Linked DNA regions of Homo sapiens: regions 2, 3, 4, 5 and 6 are each linked to region 1. The links come from fine-mapping of genetic effects on gene expression. A gene starts in region 1. Each other region holds a variant in brackets. All regions are shown on one strand. Distances are from middle to middle. Region 1 holds the start of NACC2 (NACC family member 2). Region 2 has its middle 40 kb from the start of UBAC1. Region 3 overlaps NACC2 (NACC family member 2). Region 4 overlaps RABL6 (RAB, member RAS oncogene family like 6). Region 5 overlaps NACC2 (NACC family member 2). Region 6 overlaps NACC2 (NACC family member 2).

Evidence for each region.
Region 2: its variant is fine-mapped to the expression of NACC2 in whole blood (TOPMed, PIP above 0.99).
Region 3: its variant is fine-mapped to the expression of NACC2 in whole blood (TOPMed, PIP above 0.99).
Region 4: its variant is fine-mapped to the expression of NACC2 in lung (GTEx, PIP 0.95).
Region 5: its variant is fine-mapped to the expression of NACC2 in whole blood (TOPMed, PIP above 0.99).
Region 6: its variant is fine-mapped to the expression of NACC2 in whole blood (INTERVAL, PIP above 0.99).

Annotation. Positions count from the first base shown.
Region 1 is chr9:136,092,388-136,097,457 of GRCh38, reverse strand. NACC2 (NACC family member 2) reads left to right here and starts at 2,169. Exons shown (of 6, transcript NM_144653.5): 1 at 2,169-2,269. RefSeq lists silencers at 1,707-1,806, 2,127-2,256 and an enhancer at 3,462-4,153.
Region 2 is chr9:135,998,455-136,003,524 of GRCh38, reverse strand. No RefSeq gene overlaps it. Among named protein-coding and RNA genes, the nearest start is that of UBAC1, 40 kb to the right of the region's middle. The variant G/A (reference allele first, on the strand shown) is at 1,967.
Region 3 is chr9:136,072,508-136,077,577 of GRCh38, reverse strand. All of the region lies in intron 1 of NACC2 (NACC family member 2), which reads left to right. Among named protein-coding and RNA genes, the nearest start is that of NACC2, 20 kb to the left of the region's middle. RefSeq lists an enhancer at 2,192-2,942. The variant G/C (reference allele first, on the strand shown) is at 2,990.
Region 4 is chr9:136,811,098-136,816,167 of GRCh38, reverse strand. The region is part of intron 1 of RABL6 (RAB, member RAS oncogene family like 6); the gene reads right to left. It also overlaps the pseudogene NCLP1. Among named protein-coding and RNA genes, the nearest start is that of CCDC183-AS1, 4.8 kb to the right of the region's middle. The variant G/A (reference allele first, on the strand shown) is at 2,654.
Region 5 is chr9:136,051,695-136,056,764 of GRCh38, reverse strand. The region is part of intron 1 of NACC2 (NACC family member 2); the gene reads left to right. Among named protein-coding and RNA genes, the nearest start is that of NACC2, 41 kb to the left of the region's middle. RefSeq lists enhancers at 1-331, 332-932, 5,044-5,070. The variant C/T (reference allele first, on the strand shown) is at 3,008.
Region 6 is chr9:136,004,900-136,009,969 of GRCh38, reverse strand. It overlaps NACC2 (NACC family member 2), which reads left to right. Exons shown (of 6, transcript NM_144653.5): 6 at 1-3,433. Among named protein-coding and RNA genes, the nearest start is that of UBAC1, 46 kb to the right of the region's middle. The variant T/C (reference allele first, on the strand shown) is at 2,186.

The DNA.
Region 1 (5,070 bases):
GCAGGTGGATCACCTGAGGTCAGGAGTTCAAGACCAGCCTGCCTAACATGGTGAAACCCCGTCTCTACTAAAAATACAAAAATTAGCTGGGCGTGGTGGCACGTGCCGATAATGCCAGCTACTCGGGAGGCTGAGGCAGGAGAATCGCTTGAACCCGGGAGGCAGAGGTTACAGTGAGCTGAGATCGCGCCACTGCACCCCAGCCTGGGCAACAGTGTGAGACTCGGACTCAAAAAAAAAAAAAAAAAAAGGAATAAACAGAGCTCACCTCATGGTACTGTTGTGAACGTTAAATGCGGTAAGGTGTACATACTCAGTAGCACGGGCCTGGAATTCAGTAGGGATGCAGGGTTTGCTTTAAAAGGTGCAAATATATGTTGGTGTACATACGTATAGGCACACAGAAATTGGGGAATTGATTTCTGCTTATCCGCTATCTTCTAAACACTTTTCAATGCTTTCCAAATATCCTTCACTAAGGAAGAATGTCTTTAATATTTAGAAAATAAAAGTGATTAAAACAATCATTCCCATCCCTGGAGGGCCACGGGTCCTAGTGGGTAGCCCCTTGAGGCCTGCCCCAGGGCTGGAAGCAGCTCCAGGCATCTGTCTCTGGGATTCACGATTCTCAGGGGCTTGGGGTAGCTATGCTCACTGAGAGATCCTGCAGAGATTGTAAAGTCAGGCCTAGGAAGCACCAGAACCCTGAGGCTGCTGAGCTCATGCCCTGGGTGTAGGAGGCACTCAGAACCCTCCTACCCCACCTCCTTCCCACAGTAGACTGCGGGGCGGGTTTGGAAGTGGCAGTGGTGGGGGGAGGGGGGTTGGGGTGTGGGACCTGGGACTGCATTTAGGTCTAGATGGGACTCTGTGGGGAGAGCCCAGAGTCCCTGCGGGGTTCCATACTCACCCCCATACAAGGCAAGCCAGGGAGTGAAGTGTGTGTGTGTGTGTGTGTGTGTGTTCTGGACGCAGAGCTGAATAGAACCTAAAGTTGGGGTCAAGGGCCAGTCTGTGGCCAAGATCAAGGGCCTAGCTTGAGGTTGGGGTGACAAGAACCTGGCCAAGCTTCTGATGATTTGTCCAGGGAATGACCTTGGCTGACTGTGCCAGAAGGGCTGTAGCCCCAGGTTTCTGATCCCCAGAGCCCCAAAGGCGTTCTCTGGGATGCTGGTGGCCATCTCCTTCTCAACCCTTCTCCCAGCGCCCTCGCTCGGGACCACTGAGGCGGTATCACTCCATTCTCCTGCAAGGACCCTTGAGCGTGCTGTGGGAGTGAGGCTGGCTTAGCCTCTGAGGACCACTGCAGCCTGTCCTGACCTCAGGCCCCAGGTTAGGGGGCAGCTGAGGAGGGGTCTCTGGGTCTTTCCGGGTGTGTGGCCGTTTTATTTCCGTGCCCTTGTTTTAAAACTGCACCTCTGTCCTCAGGAGCGTGGCCTTGGGCAGATGGAGAGCTGCGTGGCCGGTGCCGGAATGACTGTCAACGCCCCAGTGCGCCCGGATCACACCAGGCCTGAAGGCAGCGCCAGGCCCAGTCCAGGCAGCTTGCAGTTCCCGGGCCGCAGGGACGGGCGCCGGAGCCCCGCAGACGTTCGCCCAAGGGCGCTCCCGTATCCTCGTCTTTCACGGCCCGCCTGAGCGTCCAGGGCGGCTGCGGATGCGCGCACTTCCCCCGCCCGGATCCCGGAGGCTGCACCGTGCGGACGCGACTGCCGCGGGCAGGGCGCGCGCCGGGGGCGGGGTAGGGGGGCCCGGGGGCTCTCCCGGGCTTAGCGAGTCCGGCCGAGGCCGGGGCCCGGGGAGGGCGGAGGGCGGCGCTCCAGGTCCTTTCCCGACCCGGCCGCCGAGCTCCGTCCTCTGCGCCGCGGCGTCCGGCTCCCGCCGGGTGTCCCGCGCAGGGTCGACCGCCGGCAGCTCCGGAAGGAGGACGCGCGAGGGGCGAGGAGCTGCCGCCTCCCCTCCCCAGCGCTCGGGGTTCCCCACGCCCCGCCGGCCCCCACTGGGGACCCTCCCGGCCCCCGGACCCCAGCCCCGACCCCGGGAGCCCACCTGGCTGCCAGTGCGCGCGCGCGCGCGGCCGGCGCGCTGTCCCTTTAACGGCCCGCGGGCACCTCCCCCGCCGCCGCCCCGCCCCCGCCGCGGTGCGGCCGCCGGTGCTGGGCGAGGTCGGAGAAAGTCCATGGGAGCCGGAGCGCCGGGACGCCAAGCACTTCCTGCCGCGGGCGGCGCGCCGCAGCTGCCCAGGCCGGACCGGGCCGGGCGCCCGCAGGTACCGCCAACTTGGCGCGCGCGGCCGCCCCCGGGTTACGCCGCCGGGCGGGGTCGTCCCACGGGCCGGGCCCGCACTTCCCGCAAACTCCGCGGCCGCCCAACTTGGCGCGAGCCCCCTGCCGCAGTGCCGGCCGCGCGGGGCGGGTGCGGCCGAGTTCCGCGCCGGCCCGGGCGTGCGCGCGGGAACCGGCCTCGGGAGCCCGCGGAGGGGGGCCGGGCGGGGCCGGGGGGTCCCGGCGGAGGCGCCCGCGACCCCGGGCCGGGACGCCGCGCCGCGCGTTCGGGGAGACCCCGGCTCCGGGCGTCCCGGGGCGCTCCCCGCCGCCTGCTGGGTTTCCCTGGATTTCTGGGGACCCGCGCGGCCTCCCCAGGGACCCGACTGGCCGATCCAGCCCTCCGGGTGGGGAAGCCGGGGCAGGACTGGCCCGGGGCCAGGGCGGAGGTACCCACCCCTCCCGGCGCATCTGCGCAGCTGCCTGGCCCAGCCGGGCCCGCGCCTCGCCCTCCCGGTCCAGGTGGGCCCGTTCGTGGGTCGTCACCGCCTCCCGCGCCTCCCCCACTCGGGCCCCAGCCTGGGGAGAAACTGGGGTCCGGCCGCAGGGGGAGGGGGCTCTGCCTCTTGCCAGCTTCTGTGCCTCTGCGGAGCTGAGGTCGGGGGGCCCCAGCTCCTTCTCTAAGAAACTCAGCGGAGCCCGGGGCCCGCCGCGCACCCCGCACGGCCAGGGCGGACCGAGGCCTTCCGACGGAGTTTCCTGCTTCTCTTGCTGGGATCGTGTGGGGTCGGAGGTCAGAGGTCACCTCCCAGCCCCTCTGCCAGGCTCTGGGGGAAGTTTGGTCTTGGACTCTCGTCGTGGAGCCGCTTAAACCTGTGGGTCTGAAGGCCGCGAGGCCGGGTCCCTGGAGTTGGCCTCCCAGGCCGTTCCACTCCCTCCCCCAACCCCCGCGCGGGGCCTCCGGATTGGAGGTGTTTCACCCACGTGCTGGTGGGCCCGTCTCCCTGGGCCGCTGGGTGCCCTGAGCTGTGTTCTCTGCTGCGCGTTCCTTCCTGTGTGTGGCGGGGGTGCTGACCCGGGGGTGCCCAAGGCAGCCCGGACTCCCATCCCGTGGAGCTGCCTCCGGGAGCGCGTGCACCTTGGTGTTCCCGCCCGCCAGCGCGGCCGCACTCTCCTGCCAGAGTCCGTGTCCCTCCAGGTCGCCCCTTCTTCTCACCCACCCCTCTTTTCGTCTGGCAGGCTCCTGACCTCCTTCCCTCCTGTTCTCCAGTGGGACACTCAGCTCAGCATTCTGCAGGGTGTTTTAGCCTGTAGCACCCCCCAGCAGGGGCGCCTAGAGTTAGGTCAGGGTTCAGGCAGCCCCCGCCCCACCCGCCACCTCTCAGCCACCCACCCCTTCTTCTCCCGGCCACCGTTGGAGCACCCCTCTGGTCCTCTGTGGGGCCTTTCCCAGCCCCTCCCTTAAAGAGGCCTCTTGGCGTTTTCCCCTGGGGTCACTGTTGGGTGGTAGCTGGGCCAGAGTCCAAGGGGAGGAAATAAAAGGAGCTGCCACCCAAGGTGGTGGCCCCCTGTCCTTTCGGCAAAGCCACTTGGAATGGGCACAGAGAGTGGAACAAGATATCACTTGTCACTTCTTAGTGGCCAGGGATCCTTTCGCAGTGGTCACACCCAGGGCTCGATGGTGCTGGCCCTGGCCTGGCGGGAAGGCGGGGAGGAGCCACCCGGGAGATCTCCTGCTGGGAGCAGTGGGAGCTGGGCTGCTACAGGCTGCGAGAACAGGCTCTGTTCTTTACCACCGGCTGCTGGAAGGGTTCGCAGGGCTGCTCTGCCCTGGGCAGGGGGCTAGTGGTGACTTTTAAAAAATTCTTCAATCCTCCCTTTGTTTTCCAATTAAAGCATGAGGCTGCATTATTCATGAAACAACAGTGACGATCTTGGTGCTGAGCGGTTCTTCCAGGCCTGCACTCCTCTTGGCCTCTGCCTCCGGAGTCCTGCTTTCCTGGTTTGTGGGCAGTGTGGTCTCCCAGGCCCGAGGGATGGAATGGGGAACCAAGGTGTTGTCCTTTTCGGGATGTTGAGTTCCCAAGGTTCCACCTTGTGCCCCTTCCTCTGAGGTCTGTGCCTCTGACCTGTGTCCCTGGAACGCACAGGGCACCGAGTGCCCAGTGGCCCCAGCCACCGTCAGTGGGGCAGAGCCCATGTTCCTTCCTCAGCCAGCCCTGTTCTAGCCACCTCCACACACTGTCCCCAGGCTGCCTCTCTGCATCTCACAGCCCCTTGGGGTCACTCCATCCCCTTTGCAGGGTCACGCAGTGGGTTCCGAGATCCAGTTGGACTGTGGCCGGTGGGATGAGGGTCGGAGTCCACAGGGGGGCAGCAGGTGGCACCCCTTACCCCAGGATACACCAGCATGTTTCTCCGGAGAACCAAGGCCTTCTACAGACCCCAGTGTAACGAACACATTTGGGAACTTGACTATGGGGCCCCCTGACTCTGCTGCTCCTCCGGCCCAGTCCACCTTCACCTTGGTAGCACATGTCCCTGCCTCAGTGGCCCAGGCTGACCAGCCTCCCATTGTGGTTCTGAGGACAAGGTAGGCCACCTTCCACTTCAGGGTGACATTTCTGGCCTGGGCTGAGGAAACCTGGGGCTGGGCTTCCAGGCGTGGCTCGAAGGAGAAGCAAAGCCCTGTGGTGTGAGGCCGTGGAGCGCCCTCCAAGGCAGGAGAGAAGTAGCGCTAGCCCGTCTGGACGCTGGACCTGAGCCGCCGTCTGATGCATGTGGGCAGGTGCGGGAGTTTGTGAGG
Region 2 (5,070 bases), 94 kb after region 1:
GGCCAGGGCTGGCTGAGGTGTTTGGCTGGCTCCCGGCTCCAGCAGGTAAGATGAGGCCACCTGGGGAGGTCACTATGTGTCCCTCTGGCCCCCGTAGTCGGGCAGGTTCTGGAATGGGGCTCCCTGAGCACCAGCGCCGGATGCCTACCCTGGCACCAGGAGGCAGCTCTCCCTGGCACGGGAGCTTCAGGGTGCCCCCCCCCCCCTTCCAAGCCAAGCCCTTGAGGAGCCAGCTCCCCGGTGCCCACCCCTCACTCCCCTCAGCCCCTCTTCCTGGAGTCCTCCTGAGGGCAAAACTAGGCTCCCTCTCAAGGAAGCAGCTGCGGCCCCGCTGTGGGCTGCACTCGGGAGAGAAGGAGGGATGGTCACATGGGACAGTCAGGAGGCAGAGGGACAGAGGGACAGCCTCCGAGGCCCTGGACACGTGTCTTCATCCCCCGCTCCTCCCTCCCCTCCAGCTGGGAGGCTCCAGCAGCCCAGGAATGTCCGCAGCTCTGGCTGGCCACTGGACCTGGTTCCCCAGCTGTCCCATGTCCCTCATCAGTCGGCCAGGACCCTTCCTGGAGACCAGGCACTTCCCAGTGACGAAGGGGCTCTGGGACAGACAAGACCCGGTTCAAGGTTGGGCTTGGGGCCTGTGAGCTGGTGAGAGGGGACGTGTCTTTCCAGGTGCCTCAGCCCAGGGGTGGCCCTGGAACTGGGATCCCAGCCCAGGGTTGAGGTCTCCTTCCTACCACACACACACATTGAGGTGCCACCTGTCCCTTCACGTCACCCCACCCGCACCACGAGGGGCTTCCTCGGCTCTCCTCCAAGGAGGGATGGATTGGGCTGTTTGGCCCTGTTCCTCAGGGAACAGGGTGACATGGAGGTGGCTCTTTGGGAAGGTTGACAGTAGCAGTGGCAAGAGCCTGCACAGTGGCCAGTTGAAGCTCAGGACACCTGTGAGGGAGTCAGCACCAAAGCTGGGTTGGGCACTGGGCTCAGCCTGGCCATCCCAAAGGCAAGGAATCCTCCCTGGGGCGCCCTCAGACCAGCCTGGCTGCAGCCAGGCAGGTGGATCGGGGTCCCTGGGGAGAAGCACTCGGGTGGCCCCAAAGACCCTGCAGGATACCACGGTCACGGCAGCGCCCCTCCCCACTGCCCAGAGGTGCAGCCACCCAGAGCCCATGAACGGATGACAACCCACAGAAAAGGTCCACCCACCAAGTGCAACACAATGGGCCCTAAAACAGGGATGCACCCCAAGGGCACGAGGCTCGGTGAGAGGAGCCAGGCTGACAACTCCCTCCTGCAAGCGTCCACTTCGTGAGGTGCCCAGTCACCAAAATCACAGAGACGGTACGTAGGATGGAGGGGCCAGGCTGTGGGTGCAGGATCCAGTGTTTCGTGGGGGCGGAGCTTCAGTTGGGGAAGATGAAGCCTTCTGCAGACGGAGGGTGATGGCTGCAGGACAAGGGGACTGTGCTCAGTGCCACTGAGTCGTGCACTGAAAAATGGCCAAAATGGTGGGTTTAGAACATACGTATATGGCCGAGTGCGGTGACTCACGCCTGTAATCCCAGCACTTTGGGAGGCCGAGGCGGGCGAATCACCTGAGGTCAGTAGTTCGAGACCATCCTGGCTAACACGGTGAAACTCCATCTCTACTAAAAATACAAAAATTAGCTGGGCGTGGTGGTGCGCACCTGCAATCCCAGCTACTCGGGAGGCTGAGGCAGGAGAATCACTTGAACCCAGGAGGCGGAGCTTGCAGTGAGCCGAGATCATGCCACTGCACTCCAGCCTGGGCGACAGAGCGAGACTCCGTCTCAAAAACAAAACAAAACAAAAACAAAAAAACATATACAGTACGTGTATATATTTAAAGACAGGGTGGGGAAGAGAAACTGATCCCCCGGGGAAAGGCTGCTGAGAGGACCAGGCGGGGCAGGGCGTGCGGCTCGTGGCCTGTGACAAGCCTCAG[G/A]CCCCGTGCAGGGATGCCAGGAGCAGCTGCAGAGGGAGGCCTTTCCCGGCACGTTCTGTGTTTCCCAGCAGTGGCTTTGGGTTCACTCAGGGCCTGCAGGAGAGGAGAGGGTTAAGCAGAGGCGCCCTCAGCCCAGCCAACCTGACTGCAACCCTGAGGCAGTTCCCGCACCCAGGAGGGGCCAGTGTCCGTGAACGTGAACGGGCCAAGCCGGCCAACCTTAGGGCTGCTTTAGAAGCTGAAGCCACGTTCTTGCTGACAGCGGGCGAGGTGACCCGGCCAGGGCTGGGGGCTGGGGGTGAGTCTGAGAGAGATGGAGGCTCCTTGCTCTAAACAAGTAGCTCAGGGAGGACCCAAGCCCCTTTCTTTCTGGAGGCCTCTGCCATGAGTCTTTCCCTGGTAGCCTGGGTCGGACGAGCTTGGAGGAAGGGTTCACCCCAGGCCGCCCCCACCAGGGCAGGGAGCCCCCCACCCCCTGAAACCCATCACTTCCCCAGCAGGGGCCTGCACCTGTCTCCCATGCCAGCCCTGCCTTGTTGATGTCCTCAGAATCCTGCCCCTTCCCCCAGGGGCCTCACTGCTGCCCACCCCACTCCTTTCCCTCCCCACCGCTGAAGCTTTGACCAAGCAGCACCCCTTTTCTGTGGGAGCAAAAACCACCATGCAGCAAAAACCACCCCCAAACAACACTGGAACACCCCTCTGATGCCACCTTTTCATGAGATCGCCTTGTTCTGTGCCTCAGTTTCCCCACATGTTCAGCCAAGGGCATGAACTCCATCAGGCTCCTCACATTTACTGTGCCTCCAACCCCGCCCCCCCCCCCGCCCCGGGCATCTTGTTAGTGCACAGATCTGGCTCTGGGGGTCTGGCATGGGCCTGGACTCTGCATTCAACATCCTGGCCACACAGAGTGAGGCCATAAGGGCATCCCTCCTGCCCAGAGAGGACGGCCCACACTCTCTGGTGGAGAGACCTGGCTTTTTCCTCATACAGCACAGACTCGTGTGCAGAGACTACACGGACCCAGGTGCGGACAGCCTCACACAACAATTGCACACTCACTGCATCCAGCTTTGTGGTCTGCAGGCCTCGTCCAGATCGGGGTGCTCTGCGCATCTTTGCTCAGCTTCCCTTTGCTGGGCTCATGGGAACGCCGGGGTGGAGGTGTCCTCACGGCCCGCCCGAGAGGCATCCGCGGTCCTCGCCGGAGATGTGCCTGTATGCCGCCCCCTTACCAACACCGGGGCTTACGAATGGTTTCCCTTTGTACCAGATGGATGAGTGTTAAAAAAAATCTTCCTCTGACCTGGATGGTAGCAAATCTGTCAGCGGTCACACTCCCACTTCCGCAGCCATCCTGTACCTGTCCCGGCCACATGCACGCTTCTCCTTGCTCACCACGGAGCCCTGTACCGGGGCCTGGAGGCCTTCCCAGCTCACTGGGCCTCCGTGGTTGTCACATTGCTGTGGGGTGGGCATTGGCCCAAGAGAAGTTCTGAGTTTCTCTATTTATTTATTTATTTATTTATTTATTTATTTATTTATTTATTTTTGAGACAGAGTCTCACTCTGTTGCCCAGGCTGGAGTGCAGTGGCTTGATCTTGGCTCACTGCAAGCTCTGCCTCCTGGGTTCACGCCATTCTCCTGCCTCAGCCTCCCAAGTAGCTGGGACTACAGGCGCCCGCCACCACACCCGGCGAATTTTTTGTATTTTTAGTAGAGACGGGGTTTCACTGTGTTAGCCAGGATGGTCTCGATCTCCTGACTTCGTGATCTGCCTGCCTCGGCCTCCCAAAGTGCTGGGATTACAGGCGTGAGCCACCGTGCCCGGCCCAAAGTTCGGTGTTTTAATATCCACTCATCTTGTACCCTCCTCCGAGATGCCAGATATACTTGCTTGCGTTTTTCTCTTTGATGCTGGCGCCTGAGATCTGGGTCTGCTGATAATGGGGTTCTGGAAGCCTTGGCTGCTCAGATTGCTGAGCAGGGGAGGACAAAGCACCCTGGGGCCCTTCCTCTAGGGAACACCCCTCCCTGGGGCATGGCTGGGCCGCCCCTGCCTGGCTGCTGACAGTGTGGGCCTCACTGCCTCCCAGCCTTTGCCTTGCTTATGGTATTTGCACTAAAACCATTTCCCGGCCGGTGGCTCATGCCTGTAATCCCAGCACTTTGGGAGGCCGAGGCGGGCGAATCACTTGAGGTCAGGAGTTTGAGACCAGCCATGGTGAAACCCCATCTCTACCAAAGATACAAAATTAGCCGGGCATGGTTAGGCAACCGGGAGGAGGAGGCTATAGTAAGCCAAGATCACACCACTGCACTCCAGCCTTTGGCCACAGAGTAAGACTCCATCAAAAAATAAAAATAAAAATAAAACCATTTTCCATCCACCCAGAGCTGCCCACAGTGGAGGGGTGGGAAGAGAGAGGGTCCCACTGCCTGGGGGAGGGGCTGCTCTAGGCCCATCTCAGTGTCACCAGAGGCCAAATCACCAACAGCCGCTGCAGAGGCCTTGTGGGGCACCAGCAGTCTGCTCACCCCAGAACAGCCAGGCATGACCACAGAGTTGGAGCTTGGTGACTGGATTCTGCATCAGAAGGGACACGGGGCCCATGTCACAGGTCCCAGGGCTGGGGCAGGTCCCTGGGCAGCACCTGTCTGTTCTGACTTCAGTTTCTGGAATCAGAGTCTTGAGGCTGTGAGAACTGGCAGCCACAGCCGAGGGCCAGCAGGGGCATCCCACGCTTTTTGTGAGCGAGGCCTGGGGAGCCCTGCTCCCGGCTGGCATCTCACCTGGCGTGTGAGCGCACCTCCAGTGCCAACCTAGCCCAGGTGCTGGCCAGGGGGCAGGAAGCTGATGACAGTGTCTCTCCTCCATCGTAACAGTGGCTGTGGCAGAAAGAAGCCCCCAGGCCCAAGCACAGAGGGGCTGGCAGGATTCTGGAGCCGGCCTGGAGGCGCCTGTGCCTCCCTGGAGCGGCAGGGCTGGCAGCCTTGGTTCCTGACAGCGCCAGGGGAACCCACAGAGGCTCCTCCTGCTCCTCCTGGTTCTGTGTGTGCCCACCCCACCGGGCTCCAGCTCCTTGCACCCAGGGGAGGA
Region 3 (5,070 bases), 20 kb after region 1:
TTGTAGAATTTGTAGAATTCTTTCCATACTCTGACCACACGCCCTTTGCTGAAGATACATATGTTGCAAAGGTCTGTCCTTCTCGGCTTGTTTTTTCTCTTAGTGTTGGTCTTTATTTTTCAATATTTTAATGAAGCACGACTTATCAACAATGTCCTTTGTGCCCTGTTAGGGTTTTTGTTGTTTGTTTGTTTGTTTTGCCAAAGGCCATGTTTCTCTTCTGCTTTTTTTGTTTTGTTTTGTTTTTTGAGACGGAGTCTTGCTCTGTCGCCCAGGCTGGAGTGCAATGGCGCAATCTTGGCTCACTGCAACCTCCACCTCCGGGTTCAAGCAATTCTCCTGCCTCAGCCTCCCAAGTGGCTGGGACTACAGGCGCCCGCCACCACGCCCAGCTAATTTTTGTTTGTTTTTTTCTCTGTCACCCAGGCTGGAGTGTAGTGGCGCAATCTCGGCTCACTGCAACCTCCACCTCCGGGTTCAAGCGATTCTCCTGCCTCAGCCTCCCAAGTGGCTGGGACTACAGGCGCCCGCCACCACACCCGGCTATTTTATTTATTTATTTATTTATTTTTGAGACAGAGTCTCGCTCTGTCGCCCAGGCTGGAGTGCAGTGGCGCGATCTCGGCTCACTGCAGGCCCTGCCTCCTGGGTTCACGCCATTCTCCGCCTAGTCCCAAGTAGCTGGGACTACAGGCGCCCGCCACCACGCCCGGCTAATTTTTTTTGTATTTTTAGTAGAGAAGGGGTTTCACCGTGTTAGCCAGGATGGTCTCGATCTCCTGACCTCATGATCCACCCACCTCAGCCTCCCAAAGTGCTGAGATTACAGGCATGAGCCACCACCAGGCCAATACATTTTTTAAAAATTGTAGTCAAATATACACAACATGAAATTCACCATTTTAACCATTTTTTAAGCGCACAGTTCAGTGGCAGTAAGAACATTCCCATGGCTGTCAACCCTCACCTCTGTTTGCAGAACGTTTTCATCATCCCTGACCGAAACTGCACCCATTGAACACCAACTCCCCTCCGCAGTCCCCCAGCCCCTGGAAACCTCCGTTCTGCTTCCTGTCTCTGAACTGTCCTGCTCTGTGCCCGCGTGTGAGTGGAACCCCGTGGCGTTGTCTGTGTGTGCCTGGTGGCTTTCACTCGGCATAGTGTCTTTGAGGTTCACCGGGCTGGGGGGTGCATCAGAATTTCATTTCATTTTTGTCGTGGTATGGGCAGGAAACCTGGCTCAGAGAACATTTGAGGAACTGGGTGTTTAGAGTCACTGAGGAGAGGAGGCTGGATAGATTGTTGGGTTAGTTACAGCACTTCTTCGAGTTCCGCAGGGCCGGGAAACGCTGCCCCTTGGGGTTCTCTTTGCTACTGGATGGAAATCATTTGCTTTTCTTTTGGTTGCATATAGGAGACTTAGGATGTCACGGGGTATGGGGTGTCATCACTACTGAGTTGCAAATCAGGCAGAGGCCGCGAAGGGTGCCTGTTTACTTTATTTCCAAGTTTTCGATGACTGTTCTTTGCAGGATCTCTTCGTGACCACACGTAACCTTCATGCAGGGCTTTGAGAAGCGGGTGTCTCGGAGTTTTGTCACAGATGCAGCAGAGGAGTGGGCAGCAGCCCCAGGGCCACAGGCACTGAGCACATGGAGGGCTGCGGGGCTGCTCCTGGGCGCTTTGTAGGAAAGCCTGGGTTCCGTTTTCAGCAGCCTCTCACTCCAGAGGAGATGACTTTGCTCTTATTGAATCTTGTGTCCCGAGCCTCAGAGCCCAAACCCAAGACCCCTGTCTCTGAGGTTTCACCGACAGGGCCTGTGGGTGTTGGGTGGGTCTCCTCCCCTGGGCGCAGTCTGCACGGGGGTGTCCTCCCCGCGTGTGGAAGACCGGGCACAGGGAGCTCAGGACAGCATCAGCACAGGTTTCCTGAGGGGGCCCTGCAGGCTCTGCTCCCGCAGGACCTGCGACCCCGAACCCTGAATGTGGGCCTATGCCCGATAAAAGAAGATGCGTCCTCAGGCACGACAGCCTGGGCTTGGCCCCAGCTGCGCGATCTGTTTGAGAAACTGTACCGCGATGTAGGAGACGGCAGGTTCACACGGAGCCGCTGCCGACGTCTACGAAAGGGAAACAGGCTCGGGGAGACATTCGCCTCCGAGTTCCAAGCCCGGGGAGAGTGGACACCCTGTAATGAGCGCTTCAGTCAGTTCGCAGCAGCCAGCCTCGGGGGAGCTAGGGAGGGCTTTCCCCCCAAGTATCCCAGCCAGGCGGCCGCAGCCAGCTCTCCCTCATCCCGGTCAGTGCCGGACTGGACCAGAATGTGTCCTGGAGTCCTGGCCACCTCCCTGGTGCCATGTGACAGCTGTCTGAGGCCAAGTCTGTGTGTGGGGGGCGTTGCAGCCTGCTGCACCCACACCTGGGGCTCCCCACTTCCTGGCCTGCCGCTTTGAGGGAGCAGAAGCCGCCATTGAGGACAAGGTGGAATCGGCTCATTTCACGCAGAACCAAGAGCGTCGGCCTGGAGGAGGTCACGTCCTCTACTGGGCCTCACGTCACTGTTTCGTGAGGATCCGATTGCTGTTCCCCCAGCCCCATACGCGACAGTGAGTGGGGGACAGAGCTCCCGGGCTCCCAGAAGGAGGCCGTGCGAGAACCCATTCCCGCCAGCATCCCCCGGCCCTGCCGACTCCGCCTCGGCTGGGAAGGCCACGCTTCCTGCCGCTCTGTGTGAGGTGTAGACGCCGAGGCTGAGTGATACATCCCCGAGCCCCGCAGGTGAGCTGGGAACAGAATGTGACCACCGACATGGGCCCTCTGGGAGTCACAGGGGATGGTCGTTCGGAAGGTCCAGCTTCATCTGTCGGTGCAGTTTAGGGTGTGACTTGGTGGAGGCACGGTCAGTATTGAGTCAATGTTGAACCAGAGATAGGTTCCTTGAGGAAGGCAGGCAGCCTTGCTGTGACAGAACGAGGAATGGTTTTGACCT[G/C]TCCGTCTGTGTTAATTGAAGGGATGATACATAATTTTAAATAACCTCAGAAATTATTAACATCTTTATAAAGAACCTTAATGTTTCTGGAATGAAGAACTTTGTTTTCTTTTTCTTCTTTTTTCTTTTTTTTTTTGAGACGGAGTCTTGCTCTGTCGCCCGGGCTGGAGTGCAGTGGCACAACCTCGGCTCACTGCAAGCTCCGCCTCCCGGGTTCACTCCATTCTCCTGCCTCAGCCTCCCGAGTAGCTGGGACTACAGGCGCCCACCACCATGCCCGGCTAATTTTTTTGTATTTTATTAGTAGAGACGGGGTTTCACCGTGTTAGCCAGGATGGTCTGGATCTCCTGACCTCGTGATCTGCCCTCCTCGGCCTCCCAAAGTGCTGGGATTACAGGCATGAGCCACCGCGCCTGGCCATGCCTGGCTAATTTTTTAACAAATTATTTGTGGAGACTATAATCTTACCATCTCTCCTGGTCTCTCACTCCTGGACTCAAGTGATCCTTCTGCTTCAGCCTCCCAAAGTGCTGGGATTCCAGGCATGAGCCACTGTGCCCGGCCAAGATCTTAATTTTTTTAAAAAAATAGTCAAGGACATGACGGAGTCTGTGCAAATCCCTGTTGGTTACTTCGGTGAGAGCCAGGGTCTGCTTTCAGGGCAGAGGGAAGGATCACCGCTTACTGCTGACCCTGCTTCTGGGCAGACCAGATACTCCAAGACCAGGCAGCATTTTAGCAGACAGAACACCAAATCCTGCTTGGACGCAAATGCAGTACTTGGCAGTAGAGGATGCATAAGCACCTTTAAAACAATTAGGAATAGACCCATTGAAACTGAGCAAATTGTGCCAAAATTGTAGCACACACGCAGCTGCTTTTCATACTCCTTATTTCCAGGTATTATGAACCGAGGGAAATCAAGTCGACTTTCTGCAAACATTCTTGGGTTGTCCATACATCCACTGGAGTCTTTTGTCTTTTCCTGTTCTCTTTGGCATTCGAGACCAATTGTGCATTTCACTTTGAGACAAGCGCCTCTTCTCCCCTGATGGGCAGGACTATACTCTGATACAGCTGGATCCACGCTCACACCCCCTGTCCACTGCAGCTCCTACTGGGGTCCTCATTTTTTATTTTTTATTAAAAATTTTTTTTTTGAGACAGTCTTGCTCTGTCACCCAGGCTGGAGTGCAGCGGTAAGACCACAGCTCACTGCAGCCTTCACCTCCTAGGCTCAAGCGATCCTCCCACCTCAGTCTCCCAAGTAGCTGGGACCACAGGTGCGCTCCACCATGCCCAGCTAGTTTATTTTTATTTTTTGTACAGACAGAGTCTCCCTATGTTGCCTAGGCTGGTTTTGGACTCTTGGGCTCAAGTGATCCTCCCACCCCAGCCTCCCGTGTAGCTGAGACTACAAGCACGTGCCACCATACCCGGCCAATTAATTCTTTATGTAGCCTAGATATTAGTCCTTTGTTAAATGTGTTCCTGGCATGTTTTTTCTACCAGCCTGTGTCTTGTCTTTTCATCCCATTACCTGTGTCTTGTGCTGAGCAAAAGTTTTTAAATTTTGATAAAGTCCAGTTTATCAGTTTTTTTCTTTTATGGAAGAACTCTCTGCCTAGCCCCGGATTCTACAAATATTTTATTCTCTTGTGTGTTTTTTTCTTTCCCCTCTAGTTTTATGTTTAAGTCTCCAATTCATTTTGGGGTTATTTATTTATTTATTTATTTGAGACGGAGTTTCACTCTTGTTGCCCAGGCTGGAGTGCAATGGCATGATCTAGGCTCACCACAGCCTCCGCCTCCTGAGTTCAAGTGGTTCTCCTGCCTCAGCCTCCCAAGTAGCTGGGATTATAGGCATGTACCACATTCAGCTAATTTTTTGTATTTTTAGTAGAAACAGGGTTTCTCCATGTTGGTCAGGCTGGTCTTGAACTCCTGACCTCAGGTGATCCGCCCGCCTCGGCATCCCAAAGTGCTGGGATTACAGGCATAAGCCACCACACCCAGCCTTTTTTTTCTTTTCTTTTCTTTTTTGAGACAGAGTCTTGCCCTGTTGTGCAGGCTGGATTGC
Region 4 (5,070 bases), 720 kb before region 1:
GCGCCACTGCACTCCAGTTCAGGCGAAAGAGCAAGACCCTAAATAAATAAAATCAATTTCAGAATCTTTTTTTTCTCCTGCTGGTCCCTTGATCTTGGGTTTTCTTTTTTTCTGCTTAACTTCAGAATCTTAAATGTTGGCTGCAATAAGCTAAGTGATTCTCCTGGAAAACCTTTAGGATTCATCCAAGAAACGCTAAGAAGCCCTGTACTTACCTGTACTTAACCTCATGGTAAACCTGCTCTTTTACTAAACGGGATGTGAACACGACCTCTGTTCTAAGCTTGTTTTAGAAGATACAATGCAGAAAACACAGAGCTCTATTTGAGGCCCTGAGCCTTTCTTACCCTGATTCAATTTAACTCCTTCACATTCCTGCAGCTTTCCTGCAAAATATGGAATAATTTTCTTACATTTTCATACCAAGAAGAGCTTATGATTTATCTCAGATGCATGAAGGTTTAACTCCTAACCAGGCCCTCTCACAGTGCCAGCAGCATCTCCTGGGCCCATTACAAGGGCCCAGCCACCTCCCCACCCTGACAGCCTGTGCTGCAGCTGGTGTCAGCCACACCTTGCTCCTCTCCCACTCTGCACCCTGCAAAGATTTCCCATCCTCAGCAGCTTCAGACTACTTGGTGTCGAGGCAGGTAAAAACCAAGGTGACCCCAAGAAAATGGCTGCTCCCCCAAAGGAGGCAGAAGGAGGAAGTGAAGATGAGGAAATGTCAGAAGATGAAGAAGATGACAGCTGTGGAGAAGAGACTGTCACACCTCAGGAGAAAGGCAAGAAGGCTGCTGCAACCCCAGCCAAGAAGGTGACAGTTTCCCGAACAAAAAAGGCTGCAGGTGCCACACCCACCAAGAAAGCAACTGTCACTCCAGGCAAAGCAGTCGCCACACCTGCCAAGAAGGGAGCCATAGCAGGCAAAGCACTGGCAGCAGCTCCTGGCAAGAAGGGACACCCCAGCCAAGGGGGCAAAGAACGGCAAGAACGCCAAGAAGGAAGACAGCGATGAGGAGGAGGATGACTCTGAACCAGCAGTGATGAAGGCAGCAGCGGGTGCCCCTGCCTCAGGGGATGAGGACGAGGACGATGAGGACGATGCTGAGGAAGATGGCTCTGAAGCAGCACCTATGGAAACAACACCAGCCAAAGGAAAGAAAGCTTCTACAAATGCTGTTCCTGGGAAAGCCAAGAGGATGGCTGGGAATGAAGATGAAGAGGATGATGAGGACAAGGACGAGGGTGACGATGATGAAGAGGATGAAGTGATGAAGACGACAAAGAGGAGGAAGGGTCTGTCAAAGAAGCACCTGGAAAATGAAGGAAATGACCAAACAGCAGCTTCTGAAGCCAAGAAACACAAAGTGGAGAGTGAGAAGCACAGAACCAACTGTGCCTTTTTTTTTTTTTTAAGACAGGGTCTCACTCTCTCGCCCAGGTTGGACTGCAGTGGCGCAATCTTGGCTCACTGCAACCTTCACCTGCCAGGCTCAAGTGATTCTCCTGCTTCAGCCTCCTGAGTAGCTGGGATTACAGGCGTGTACCACTACCACCCGGCTAATTTTTGTATTTTTAGTAGAGACGGGGTTTCACCATGTTGGCCAGGCTGGAACGTCTTTCAATCTTTGTTGGAAACCTGAACTTTAACAAGTCTGCTCCTGAGTTAAAAACTAGTATCCATGGGCCAGGCCTGGTGGCTCACGCCTGTAATCCCAGCACTTTGGGAGGCTGAGGTGGACAGATCACAAGGTCAGGAGTTTGAGACCAGCCTGGCCAACATAATGAAACCCTGTCTCTACTAAAAATACAAAAATTAGCCGGGCGTAGTGGTGCGTGCCTGTAGTCCCAGCTACTGGGGAGGCTGAGGCAGGAGAATCACTTGAACCCGGGAGGTGGAAGCTGCAGTGAGCACCATTGCACTCCAGCCTGGGTAACAGAGCAAGACCCTGTCTCGAAAAAGAAAGAAAAACAAAAACTAGTATCCATGATATTTTTGCTAAAAATGATCTTGCTGTTGTGGATGTCAGAATGGGTATGACAAGGAAATCTGACTATGTGGATTTTCAAGCTGCTGAAGACCTGGAAAGAGCCTTGGAACTCGCTGGTTTGAAAGACTTTGGCAATGAAATTAAACTAGAGAAACCAAAAGGAAAAGACAGTAAGAAAGAGCAAGATGTGAGAATACTTTTGGCTACAAATCTCCCTTACAAAGTCACTCAGGATGAATTACAAGTGTTTTGGCTGGGCGCAGTGGCGCAGTGGCTCACACCTGTAATCCCAGCACTTTGGGAGGCCAAGGCAGGCAGATCACGAGGTCAGGAGATCAAGACCATCCTGGCTAACACGGTGAAACCCTGTCTCTACTAAAAATACAAAAAATTAGCTGGGTGTGGTGACGGGTGCCTGTAGTCCCAGCTACTCGGGAGGCTGAGGCAGGAAAATGGCGCAAACTTGGGAGGTGGAGCTTGCAGTGAGCTGAGATCACGGCCACTGCACTCCAGCCTGGGCAACAGAGCGAGACTCTGGCTCAAAAAACAAAAAAGTGTTTGAAGATGCTGTGGAGATTGGATTAGTCAGCAAGGATGGGAAGAGTAAAGGGACTGCTTATATTGAGGTTAAGACAGAAGCTAATGCAGAGAAAACTTCT[G/A]AAGAAACGCAGGGAACAGAGATGGATGGCCGATCTATTTCCCTGCACTATCATGGAGAGAAAGGTCTAAATCAAGACTAGAGAGACCACTTGGAGGGGTGAATCAAAAACTCTGGTTTAAGCAACCTCTCCTACAGTGCAACAGAAGAAACTCTTCAGAAAGAATCTGAGACAAGGCAACTTTTATCAAAGTGCCCCAGAACCAAAATGGCAAATCTAAAGGGTGTGCATGCACTTACAGTTCGCTTCATTTGAAGATGATAAAGCAGCTTTAAATTCCTGTAATAAAAGGGAAACTGGGGGCAGGGCAATCAGGCTGGAGTTGCAAGGACCACCTGATGCCAGGAGCCAGCCATCTAAAACTGTCTGTCAAAGGCCTGTCTGAGGACACCACTGAAGAGGCTTTAGTCATTCGACAGCTTTGTTGGGCAAGGGTAGTCACCAACCAGGAAACCGGGTGCCCCAAAGGCTTTGGCTCTGTAGATGGCAACAGTGAGGAGGATGCCAAAAGCGCCAAGGAGGCCGCGGAAGATGGTGAAATTGAGGGAAACAAAGGTAACTTGGACTGGGCCAAACCTAAGGGCGAAGGTGGCTTTGGGGTTGTGATGGAGGTAGAGGAAGCTTTGGAGGATGAGGTGGTGGCAGAAGCCAGGAAGGCTTTGGTGGGCGAGGCAGCTTCTGGGGAGGCAGAGGTGACCACAAGCCACAAGGAAAGAAGACAAAGTTTGAACGGCTTCTGTCCCTTTGTCTTTCCCTCTCCCATTTGAAAGAAAGGACGCTGGGGTTTTTATTCCGTTACCTGATCAATGACAGAGCTCTCTGAGGACATTCCAAGACAGTCTACAGTCCTGTGGTCTCCTTGGAAATTCGTATAGACAACATTTCAAGGGTAATACCTTCCTTGTTTGTTTTGACTGGATATTCATATAAACTTTTCTTTCTTTTCTTTTTTTTTTAAGACGAAGTCTCACTCTGTCGCCCAGGCTGGAGCGCAGTGGTGTGATCTTGGCTCACGGCAACCTCTGCCTCCCGGGTTCAAGCGATTCTCCTGCCTCAGCCTCCCGAGTAGCTGGGATTACAGGCATACGCCACCACACCTGGCTAATTTTCATATTTTCAGTAGAGATGAGTTTCATCATGTTGGCCAGGTTGGTCTTGAACTCCTGACCTCATGTAATCCGCCCACCTCAGCCTCCCAAAGTGCTGGGATTACAGGTGTGAGCCACCGTGCCCGGCCTGCTAAGTCCCATTTCTAAATTCGCACCAGTGTCTACTCAGAGAGGACTCTGGTTGTCCGAGCTCCTGGGCCAGGCCAGTATCAGAGCTGCACAATAATGCTCACTCAGGAGCAACTCCACAGAAAAATTCTGCACCAAATACAACTGATATTTTGTGTCCAGTCACAGTAGAAAGGGACAGACCAACTCAGGCAACAATCTTTCTTCCAAATAATTTCAAATAATTTTCCTAATAATTTTATATGCAAATAATTTCAAAATTGTGTAAACCAAAATTAAAATCCCAAGGCCTGCCAACCATCTGAATGGACTTCCTCTTCTAGGCCAGGGCCATCCAAATTTCATCTGAAAGACTGGTTCAGGCCATTATGGGAAGAGGGGAGTCAGACAGGCCTCATTGTGGCCTCCTCCCTTCTGGAATTCAGGAAAAGCTCACCAGCATTTAACATCAACACTGACTTTAAGTCTGATAAGAAACATAATCTGGCCAGGCGCGGTGGCTCACGCCTGTAATCCCAGCACTTTGGGAGGCCAAGGGGTTCGGACTGCTTGAGTAGAGGGGTCTGAGCCCAGCTGGGCAACGTGGTGAAACCCTGTCTCTCTAAAAAATACCAAAATTAGCTGGGTGTGGTGGTGCAATTGTTTTTTTTTTTTTTTTTGAGACAGGGTCTGACTCTGTCACCCAGGCTGGAGTGCAGTGGCACAATCTCAGCTCACTGTAACTTCTGCCACTTGGGCTCAAGCGATTCTCCCGCCTCAGCCTCCTGAGTAGCTGGGATTACAGGCACCCACCATCACACCCGGTTAATTTTTATAGTTTTAGTAGAGACGGGGTTTCGACATGTTGGCCAGGCTGGTCTTGAACTCCTGGCCTCAGGTTGTCCGCCTGCCTCGGCCTCTCAATGTGCTGAGATTACAGGCGTGAGCCACCGCGCCCGGCAAAAAAACACAATTTTTTTAAACTACCTCCGACCTGGAAGCCCCCACTTCAAGTTGTCCCGCCTTTGTGGACCAAATCAACATATATCTTAAATGTATTTGATTACTGTCTCATGTCTAAAATGTATAAAACCAAGCTGTGCCCTCCACCTTGGGCACATGTCCTCAGGGTCACCTGAGGGCTATGTCACGAGCCATGGTCACTCATATTCAGCTCAAAAATAAATCTCTTCAAATATT
Region 5 (5,070 bases), 41 kb after region 1:
GCTGAACGGAGAGAGCCCGGCCTGGGCCCAGCCCTGCATGGCTCTCCTCCACCTCCCAGGCTGGGGCGACAGTGATAGTCCGAGGGGGCCCGTCATCCCAGAGACCCCCCGTACCTCTGTGACCCTGAAGCTGGGGGCCTTTGCGCCCCTTTCCTGGGTGGAACTCTCCTCTCTGCCACAGAGTCCTTAGGGCCCTGGCAGGTCAGGGTCGTAGCTACCCGGGGTCTGTTGGGCGGGGCCAGGCATCCTCTCTGGCTCTTGTGACTTGATGACCAGAGACCACCCAGGAAGGATGATGGCTAGGGGCCTGGCCCCGCTGCCTCCCGACTGTGAGGTCTCAGTTTCCTCATCTGTATGTCCAGTAGCGGGGAGGTGAGCACACGGCACACGCCATCCTGGCTTTTGTGGGGGCCTCGGGGTTGGGGGGAGTTCCTGGCCGCCGAGGGCCCTGGCCCAGAGCTGCTGCATCTCATCTGCATGGAGCTGGTGGTTCCATTAGCAGCCAGGCCTCCGGGCAGCCCAGCTCTGCTTTCTGGCATTTTAAAAGTTTAATGCAAACCTGAGGGCTAAGCTGGTGCCACACCCAGCTCCCTGAGGCCCTGGCACATCCGGAGCTGGGCAGCCTCTACCCCCCAGGGTTAACCTCCGGGCCCCCTGCCGCCCCCTTGTCCTCCCTAGGGCCTCTTTTCTGAAGGTATAGGGTCAAAGCAAATCCTCCTGGAGCCTGCACCGTATGGGAAAGGGAAGGCGTTGCGCGGAGGTGGGCAAGGTCCACGGGGTAGCAGCCCCCAGACTGTATTCCTAACACCCCCTGTGCTCCTGCTGACTCCAGAGCACCTGGCACAGCAGGCCCGCCCCATCCCCACACCTTCTCACGCTCCAGGAGCGCCTTCGATTGACCTTTTAGGAGATGTCCTCACTTAACTAACTGCCAGGCAGTCTCCACCAGGGGCCGGGGCTCGGGGTAGAGGGACTCTCCCCTCCGCAGAACGTTTCCCGTGCCCCGCCTCTCTCCTTCCTCTACCACGTGTTTAATGGCTGTGCATTTGCTGAGGTCCAGAACCTCTTATTAGATTGGTGAAATTAAATCCTGCAAGATAATTTAATTTAATTTAATTTTTCTCGCCTCCCTTCCCCTTGCTGGTGGTGATCCTGCAGAAATTCAGTGCCGCATTCCTCTGGTTTGCTGTGCTGGGCTTAGAAAGTGCTTTACAATCTAGGGGTGGAGGGGGCAGGGTTTCTGGGGACTCTGGGCGAGGCCCTCAGACCATGGAGCTGCCTGGCTGGGCCCCAGGAAAAGGGCTCCTCCTGTTGGGCTGCCTGACTGGTCCCTGTCCCAGTCCTCTGGCCTGGGGGATGCTTTCAGGGGTCTTGTACCTGCCAGAGCCTCTGCTCCTGGGTACTTGATGCCAGGACCCAGGTGCCCTGGCCTGGCACCAACCTTGTAACCTGTGTCCTTGTGTGAATCCTGCCGGGACGACACTCAGGCAGGGGGGTCGTTCTGGAGACGCTGCCCCAACCCCTGTGTGCGCGTCTGGCTGCAGTTCCAGTGAGCCCCTGTCCTCCCCGCGGGCTCCTCTCACCCATCGGCAGGTTGCTGGGTATGGGGCTCATCATGGTGGGCAACCCCTAACCCCAGGGCAGGGCAGGCCTGGATCTCAGCCTTCCTCAAGTGAGGCTCTGCAGAGGAGAGACCCCCCACTCCGACACCACAGCCACCTGTATTTTCTTATTCCTGAGGGTGGCTTGTGGGCTCAGAGGAACCCAGCCTCCTCTGTGTGTCTGTGTGGGGTGGGGCACCGAAGGCTGGCACAGCTGCAGGGAGTGGACTCGGGCCTTGGGTCACCTGCAGAGGTTCTCCAAAGTGGGTTCTGTTCTGAAGGGCGTTTTGAGAGCAAGGGTCGTTGGTGCCACAACCCTGAGGATGGCTGGGGTAAACAAAGTTGGCGACCTCTGATTTTTTGCCTGGCTCTGCAGAACTTTCCATAAGTGAATGAGTGTGTTGAATCTCACCGAGAAGGGGAAACAATAGGAGGTGTTGCTTGGGAAGCAAAGTGGTGGGGAAACTGAGTCACTGGAGAATGTGCAGGGGAGGGTGGGGATGCCCTGATGTCTGAGAACCAGGCTTGGCCCCTGCCCTCCTGAGCAGACAGCTCTGCTCACGTCCCTGGGCCCACCTGGGCCCTCGGCCCCCTCCTCTCTGGGTGTAGCAGGAGGGTCAGCCCCCGTGTGTCTGCTTTCCTGGCCCTGGGGGCGTGAGCCAAGCCTTTATTTTATTCTTTTCTCCTAAAGTTCAGCTTTGTTCTTGAGCCTTCCAAGAAAGCAACCTAAAACCAGCTCCTGTCCGGCTCTCAGCAGGCTGGGGCGTGGGGCTGCAGCCTCACCGGTGCAGGTGGCCTGAGGACAAGCCAGCAAAAGCTCCAGTTGTCCTCGATCCCCAGGGACCACACGGCCCCATCACCTTCAAAGGGAATAATGGTCCCTTCTCTGGGAGAGCTGGTCTGTCCCCCAGCCCTGGGGCTCCAGCTCCTGAGGTGCGGACGCAGGCCGAACTGGGCTGGGCGTTAAGACGCCCACCTGGATGCCCAGCTGAGAGCTGCTCTCCTGCCCAGGTCACAGCAGGTTGCAGGCATCACCGGCTTTCTGTGTGTGAGGCTTCAGCCGCCGGCTTCACAAACATTGTTCCATTCACCCCCAGGAACCATCTGAGGGTAAATCATAACCCCAGTTCACAGCTCAGCGTCTGAGGCTGAGGTGTCCTTACAGGAAGTGGCTGGTGCCCACGGGACCTAGGATTTCAGCCTTGCCAACAGGCCAGGACCCTCTTGCTGCTGGAAGGGACAGGCTGAGAGCCTACATTGTCCCTTGCTGTCTGTGTCAGCCCTGGCTGCTGCCCTACCCAGCCCAGGTACTTGGGACCCCCAGGAACCGGTGCGCCGTGCTGGCCTCTGCCTGTCCCCTCTTTTGGTACAAAAGCCCCTGTATGACTCAGACATCCCTACCCCCC[C/T]GTCCTTGGGGCGAAGTTGCCCACAACAGAAGCCACGGGCTCTCTGGGAGGCTCCTGGTGGTGGGCGCAGTGGGTCTGTGAAGGGAGCTGTCTAGGGGCCTCTGCCCTCTGTGCTGTGTTGCACAGGCCCCTCTCTTGTACCCCCCTGCCCGGGTTGTGTCCAGCATTCAGCCCTTGCCGAGCTTATGAGGGCACTTGGCAGACTTCCTGGATGAGGCAGAAACTAAGTGGGGACCTGAGGGTGGAGGGTGTGGCGGGGAGGGTGACAGCTGGGCCCTGTGTCTCCTGGCCCGGTGGAGCCCAGCTCATCAGCATGGCCGAGTGGGGACGTTTCTGTAAACGCCCCCATCCCAGTCTCCTTGAGTTGTCACCAGCCCCTTGTAGGAGGCAGAAAACACTAGGCACGAAGCCACCTCCACGGGCCTTTGCCGGCAGCTTCCCCGCACCTGGATCTCTTCCCGTCCCCATTCAGTGGCTTTTTGTCTGGTCTGGAGAAGCTGAGCCCATGGTGTGTGACTAGGGAGGAGCCAGATGGCCCTCTCTCTGGTCTCCGGATGCCTCAGAGGGGCGCCGGGAGTGAGGGGCAGGGCTGTGTCGCCTTGCCTCCCACCAGGCCTGTTCGGGCCTCCTCCGCATCCTGCTGCCAGGGTTACCCCGAGGGTGGTGGAGGCAGCTGGCCAAGCAGGAGGGGGCTCACCTCAAGGCCTCGAGCCTGGACCCTGCCCCTTCTTTTGGGTGGAATGTGCTCTTCCTGGGGGTCACAGCCAGTGGCAGGGAAACTGAGGCTGGGCAGTCCAGAGGTCAGCCTCAGGGCCCCACGCAGAGAGGCTGGTATGAGCCCAGGATGAAGTACACATTCTCTGGAGGGGTCCCGGGGCCACCACAAGTCCTGCACAGCAGCAGCCCCTTCCCAGGAAAAGGCTCAATAACAGCCAGACGCTGCAGACCCCCTTGGGCAGGAGGTGCAGCCTGTGTGGCCGCAGCCAGGAGTGTGCGGGAGGAGCGAGGCGGCCGCTTTGCCCTCTGCTGGGACCTCTCAGGCGGGGCTGCCCCTTCCGGCTCCTGGTTGCCCGGCCACAAAGTCGCTCTTTTCTTAAAGTGCCAGGAGGGCGCTGGGAGTGGGATGGGGAGGGGTGCTGGGGCTGGACTCCCGGGCCTGCCGCCTGGGCAGAGGACACAGCTCTAAGGCCCCCAGGACCTGGGGTGCCGCCTCACCCACCCACTGCCTGCCGTTTCTGTGCCTCTCTTCACCCCCTGCTGTACCTCCCCTCCCCTTCCCTGGCTCCCCTAGCTGTCCTGACCCCCTCACCCCCTCCCCCTGGCGCCTCTGCCCATTCCCCACCCTCGCTGGAGGAGTTCAGCTCTGCCAGCTCTGCAGACTGTTTGGAATAGTTTAAATGCTTTGACACTGGGGCTGTCCTGGAAGGCCGGGAGGCAGTTTACTGGGTAATTCATATGCAAAACTGCACCATAAATTTCCAGGCTGTCTCAGTTGCCGTGGCACCGGGAAGCATTTCTCCACTACTGTACAGTATTTCTGCCATCTTTGTTTGCATTGCAGTGAGTCATCAAAAGTCTGTCTCGTACCAGCACCCGGGGCCGCGCATTCCTCTGGCACCAACACTCCACTGTTTTTAAAGCCGGGGCTGGGAGCTGGCATTTACTTCGGCTCCCAAATCAAAGGCGGCTATTCATTCCCGAGCCGCCGGAACGTTCGTCTGCATCCGGCCCCTTCATTGAGATGCGGTGCGCTGCCCGGGAGGGCCGGCCTGGGTGCAGCTGAGCTGCGGCCGCGAGCCCAGCGCCCAGGCGCTCTGCCCTCCTCCTCCTCCTCCTCCTCCACCATCTCCTCCTCCTCCTCCTCCTCCTCCTCCTCCTCCTTGCCGGCTCCCTGCGCCCTCCCCGCCCCAGGGCTCCCGCTCCGTTTGCTGCATTCGCGGAGCAGCTGGGCAGGCGGGCTGCGTGCGGGGAGCCTGTCCTGCCAGGCGGAGCGGGCAGTGCCGGCCGGCGGCCGCAGCGGCTGAAGGTAGGTCTTCCCGACCGGCCGGCAACTTCTCCGCAGC
Region 6 (5,070 bases), 87 kb after region 1:
GTGTGGCCAGAAGAACCCCCCATCCCAAGACTTGAAATGTCTGTTGCTCACCTCTGTCCCTCCAGAACTCGGCTTCCCCATCTTCACTTGCAAAACAAGTGCAGCCCTGCGCCCATCAGCACCCCCTCCGGTGTGCACACAGGCCAGTGAGCGGTGGCCGACCAGCGCACCCCACTCCCCCAACCTCCACAACCCATCAAGCGGAGGCCGCCTCCGCTAGGGGAGGACCATGTGCTGCACCCTGGCCTGGGGACCTACAGGGTGTGGGTTAGACGCATTCCCACTGGGCGGCTCCTTTCTGCCCCGAAGCCCACCCCTGTGGCGAGGCCCTAGGAGACCTCCCGTGGGGCCGCCTCTACAGACAGCACTCAGCCTCCTGGGCTGCCTCCAGCCAGGCCCAGCACATGCCTGCCCTCCAGAAAAATACGTTGCTTTCCAGAAGGAGGTGGGGGACCATGGGCAGGCACTGTGGACGCTAACCTCGGCCCCTCCACCCATTCCTCAGGGCCCACGTCCAGGGGGACCAAGACCTGCATTCCTAGGGCTGCAGGTGGCTCAGTGGTGCAGAGGCATCCAGACCTTCTGCTGAACTAAGAACCACCCAGCCTAGAGGGAGCCTTTCTCTGCCTCTTCCTCCCCTGTCTTGGGCACAGGTGGGGTTGGAGCCCCCATGGGGCCCGCTGGGAACCTGGACCAAGCCTTCCTCGGAGATGGGAGGAAGCCGCGGGGTGGAGCAGGGGCAGGTAGGTGAGGTTGAGCTGCACTTGAGTTCCCTCTGGAGTTTCCTTCATCTGCCCCACACCCAAATTTGCACTTTAATTTGACCATCCCTGGGGGCCTGGCTGCTGACAGAAGGGCTCTCTCTGCCCTCCACTCCAAAGTGGGTGCCCCCCCACCCTTGGCCAGGACAGGGAGGGAGCCGCTGGCTGCTGCCGGAGGTGGTGGCTGCACAGAGGACGCCTGACTGCTGTTCAGGCCCGCACAATGTCCCGTGCCCCTTCCTCACTCGTTTGTAATCGCCGTCTGTTTTGTTCTGGGTAAGGAAGGCAAGAGCTATAGATAAAACTTAAATAATAATAATTTAATGTGAATGGGTTCTGAGCTCTCCCTGCGCCCCGGGCGGGCCAGGCCGAGCATTTTGCACTAATGTGTCCCACGGTGGGCGTGAGTCGGGAGTGTCTGTGGACGTGCGTGGCTGCTGAGCGGACCTGCTGTGTGCTCCCTCCACGTCCTGAATGTACCGTGGGGCGGGGGCGGCGGCCCGGGCTCAGAGGGGCCTTCCAGAGTGCCTTAGCATCCTTTGATCATTTTTCCCAAGGAAACCAATTAAGAAAGCCGGACCCTTCCCTCCTTTGTTTACAAGATGACTAATTCTAGAATCCGGGGTTGTCCTGTCCTGTGAGTGTGACCCTGACTCATCCAGACCCTGTAGAGAGAGACGAGCCACTCAGTATTTATGAGATGTCTGCACCTTTATCCCTAAGCCTGACTATTAGCAATACGCATATCCTATATAGAATCTATTACAGAGCTACGTTATCTCCACACCTTTTGAGGAGGACAGAAGGGACTGGACCGTGTTGGAGCTGCCGCCTGGCAGGTGGTGGGCCTGGGATCTAGCCGCCTCTCCTGCCCTGCCTTCCTCTTCCCCAAGGGGATGGGCCCAGGAGGCAGCTGGGTTGCATGGAGAGGTCCAGGAGGGACCGGAGGTGTGACAGATACTGTGAGCCCGGCGGGCCGCGCCTGGCTGGGTGCCTCGGTACTTGAATTCTGTCTTGTTTTCCGCATTGTGTCTGTCCACCCGAGTTCTCTGTCGTCACTTAACTTTGCATTGGATTTGGTTGTTGTACTTTGCCCCTGAATGTGGACAAAGCTGTGGGCAAGAGGTCAGCAGGACCCGCCTGGGGGTGCCGGCGTTGGTGACTGCGGGTCGGGGCTCCTAGAACATAGGAGCCGGCTGCCTGGCCTCCTTTCTCCTCCAGGAAGAGTCATTCTTTGGCATTTGTGTTTAGAGCCAGGAGGAAGGCGGAAGGTAGGGAGGGAGGGCTGGTCCCCCTCTGAGGGGGCTCTAGTGCCTGACCCTGACCTGTCCTCATTCGACAGCTGAAACTGTTAAGCGCTGGCCCAGTCCCCCCACCCCACCCAGCCGTGTACTGCCTGGGCTCCCCTCAAAGGGAAATTTTTA[T/C]GGAAACATCTTGGCAGCAAGTGGAAAAAGATCTATGGCCCATGAACCAACTGAAAACTCCAAGAACCCTCTGTCTGCCTCTGCCAGCAGCGAGTCCTAAGCGCAGAATCCAGAGCTCGTAGCTGTCCTCAGCTGTAACTACTGTTTCAGAATGTTGCTGCTGCATACTTTTGTCATGTCAGCCAGCCAGCTCCGTGGGTGAGAGTGTGCGTGTGCGCGTGTCTGTGTGTGTGTGCGTGTCTGTGTGTGCACGTCTGTGCGTCTGTGTGTGCGCGTCTGTGCATGTGTGTGTCTGTGCGTGTGTGCGTCTGTGTGTGTGCGTCTGTGTGCGCGTGTGTGTGCGCGTCTGTGTGTATGTGTGCACGCGCGTCTGTGTGCACGTGCGTGTCTCTGCACGCGTGTCTGTGTATGTGTGCACGCGTGTGTCTGTGTGTGTGCACGCGCGTGCACGTCACCACCGGAGCATTTAGGGTTTGGTACAAGATGGTTCTAAAATGGCAAAGGTTTTTCGTGTTTGTTTGTTTTGTTTCTTTGGAAAAAGAAAAGGAAAGGAAAATCATGCAGAATCGCAAGCATTCAGACTGGACGACCGGCTCGTATTCCGATCAGTCGCTTCCATTGTTAGCATCGTACACGATTGTGATTTTTATGTCAAAAGAAGCCAAAACTTGCAATACTATTTTTAGCAGACAAAAAAAAGAACTAAGTATAAAATGTATAAATATTTTTGACTTGAAGATTTGGATGGCACTGGGTGCAAGTAGAGCATCCATCCTTCGGATGGAATGTTTGGAAAAAAGAGACTTTTAAAAAGGAGACGGTTGTTTTAAAGAGTCTGTTTAGGGGTTAAAGTACTGTAACTCACGACTGTTAAAAAATAAATTTTCCTGTGCTGTAAAGGAAGGTTTCACAGTACCACTGAGTTAGATTTCAGCCACAGATGCTTAGCTTTTTTTTTTTGTCTTTTTTTTAAGGAGGAAGCCTTTGTTTTGTTTTCCTGAGCCCTCACTCTGTTTTTGTGCTGTTACTCGGTAGAGTCAAGACTGTTACTTTTTAGCCATGGCTGACATTGTATCAATAACTAAAACTGAAACATTCAAAAGCGAACAGGGAAACCGAGGGCTTCAAGCGTGCTCAGAGCCGTTTCAGACAGTGGAAATCCATGACAAACAAAAGGATGTGATCATTAATTGTAAAGCGCTTTGTAAAATTCACATTTACAAAATAATAAAGTCAGTTCAAACCTAAGTTTCCTGGACTTGGCTTGGCCCTGTGGGGTTTGGGGGAGACACAGAGAAGCCAAGCTTGGGCTATTGAAGGCAGGGGTGGCCAATGGTCCCCCAGGGGCACCCTCAGGACCCCGTCCCTGTTAGCGGCGTCCCCAGGCCAGCTGTCCACACAACAGGGCAGGGATCTGGCTGTGGGGTTCAAGGTCACCTGACCCATCTCTTGCTCTCCCCAGTGTTTTACAAGGGAAGGGGCAGGTGGGTAGGATGTCTGCAGGTACTAGTGTGCCTGCTAGAGGGGGGCCCTGTCCGGACCCGCAGGCAACCTGCCAGGGTCGGGGGGTCTCCTTTTCGGGACCTTGGTTTTATTGTCTGAGAAGTGGGGCAGCCCCTTCATCTGCCTCACCTGCCACCCAAAAGGTGCGTGGCTCCTTCTTTCCCTCCCCCTCCCCCACCCCCTCCCGGGCCATGTCTGCCCCCAGGTGAACAGAGAGACAAGTGCAGGTGGGCAGAGCTGGGCCCGCGGGGTTGGCCTTCTCTCCAGCTCTGGGGCTGGTGTCCTGGGGTTCAGGCTGCGTGGCCAGCCCCATTCCCTTTTGCTCCTCTGGCGTATCCACAAGGACAGGCTGAGTGCTTTGCAATCATGTGTCCCCCAGACCTGTCCTGCCGGGCCCTTGATGGGTGCCTCCTACGTCTGGAAGCACTTTCCTCTGGATACCTTCCTGGCAGGCTCCTCACTTCCTGCGGTCCTGTGAGGGTCTCGTCCAGGGGACCACCCCTGATCACCTTACGGGCACCCCTCCCTGGCCTCTCTTCCCCTTTCACAGGGTTCATGGCACCCGCCGTACTGGAGGGAGGTGGTGGATTTATTGGGCAGGGCTTCATGGCCATGTTCCCAGAAGAGGGTCCTCTGGAGCCAGCATAGGGCAGCCCCTGATTGTCTCAAATGGATGGATGTGGTTTCCATATGGGCCCCCTGGATGGAAGGGCCCATGTGGCAAGGGGATGGCGCTTGAGGTCACCCTGAGCCATTGCCTCCTACAGGAGCCACATCACCACACTGTCCCCACCAGGAATGCCCAAGGGGTCTGTTCCCCAGTGGGGGCCAGGGAACACGGAGTGTTCCAGTCCCCATCCCACCACCAAGCCCAGCCCCAGGCCTCCAGGGTAAGTGTATCCGACTCAACTTCCTGGAGAAGGAGCAGAGCCCCCAGCTCTCAGGGCCAGCACCTGCCTGGCTGGTGGGGAGCTTGGTGAGGACAGACAGCTTGGATGCACACCTGCAAGACCCCAAATGCCGCACCCAGGTGGGTCCCAGGCCCCCTCAGCAGCTAGGACTGCTGAGGTCTGGGTGGCCCAGTTAGGGGAGGGAGGGTCGTGGAGAATGCCCCACCTTGGCCCAGGAATCCTGCCACTCTGGGAGGGGGCCTACCCAGCCCAGTCCTCCACCAAGTCGGCCCTGGTTTTCCAAGGAGGAGGGGGAGCCAGGCACCTGCTGCCCATCCCATCCCTTGTCCCCCATTCCCCGTCCCCCATCCTTCCCACGGCCGCCTCGCCCTTGCAGCCCCGACAGAAACCGGCTGAGGCATCAGGAGCCTTGCATGGGCCTCCCACCCCCTTTGTCAGTTTGGACAGGAGGAGGGCGCTGTGTCAGCAGGA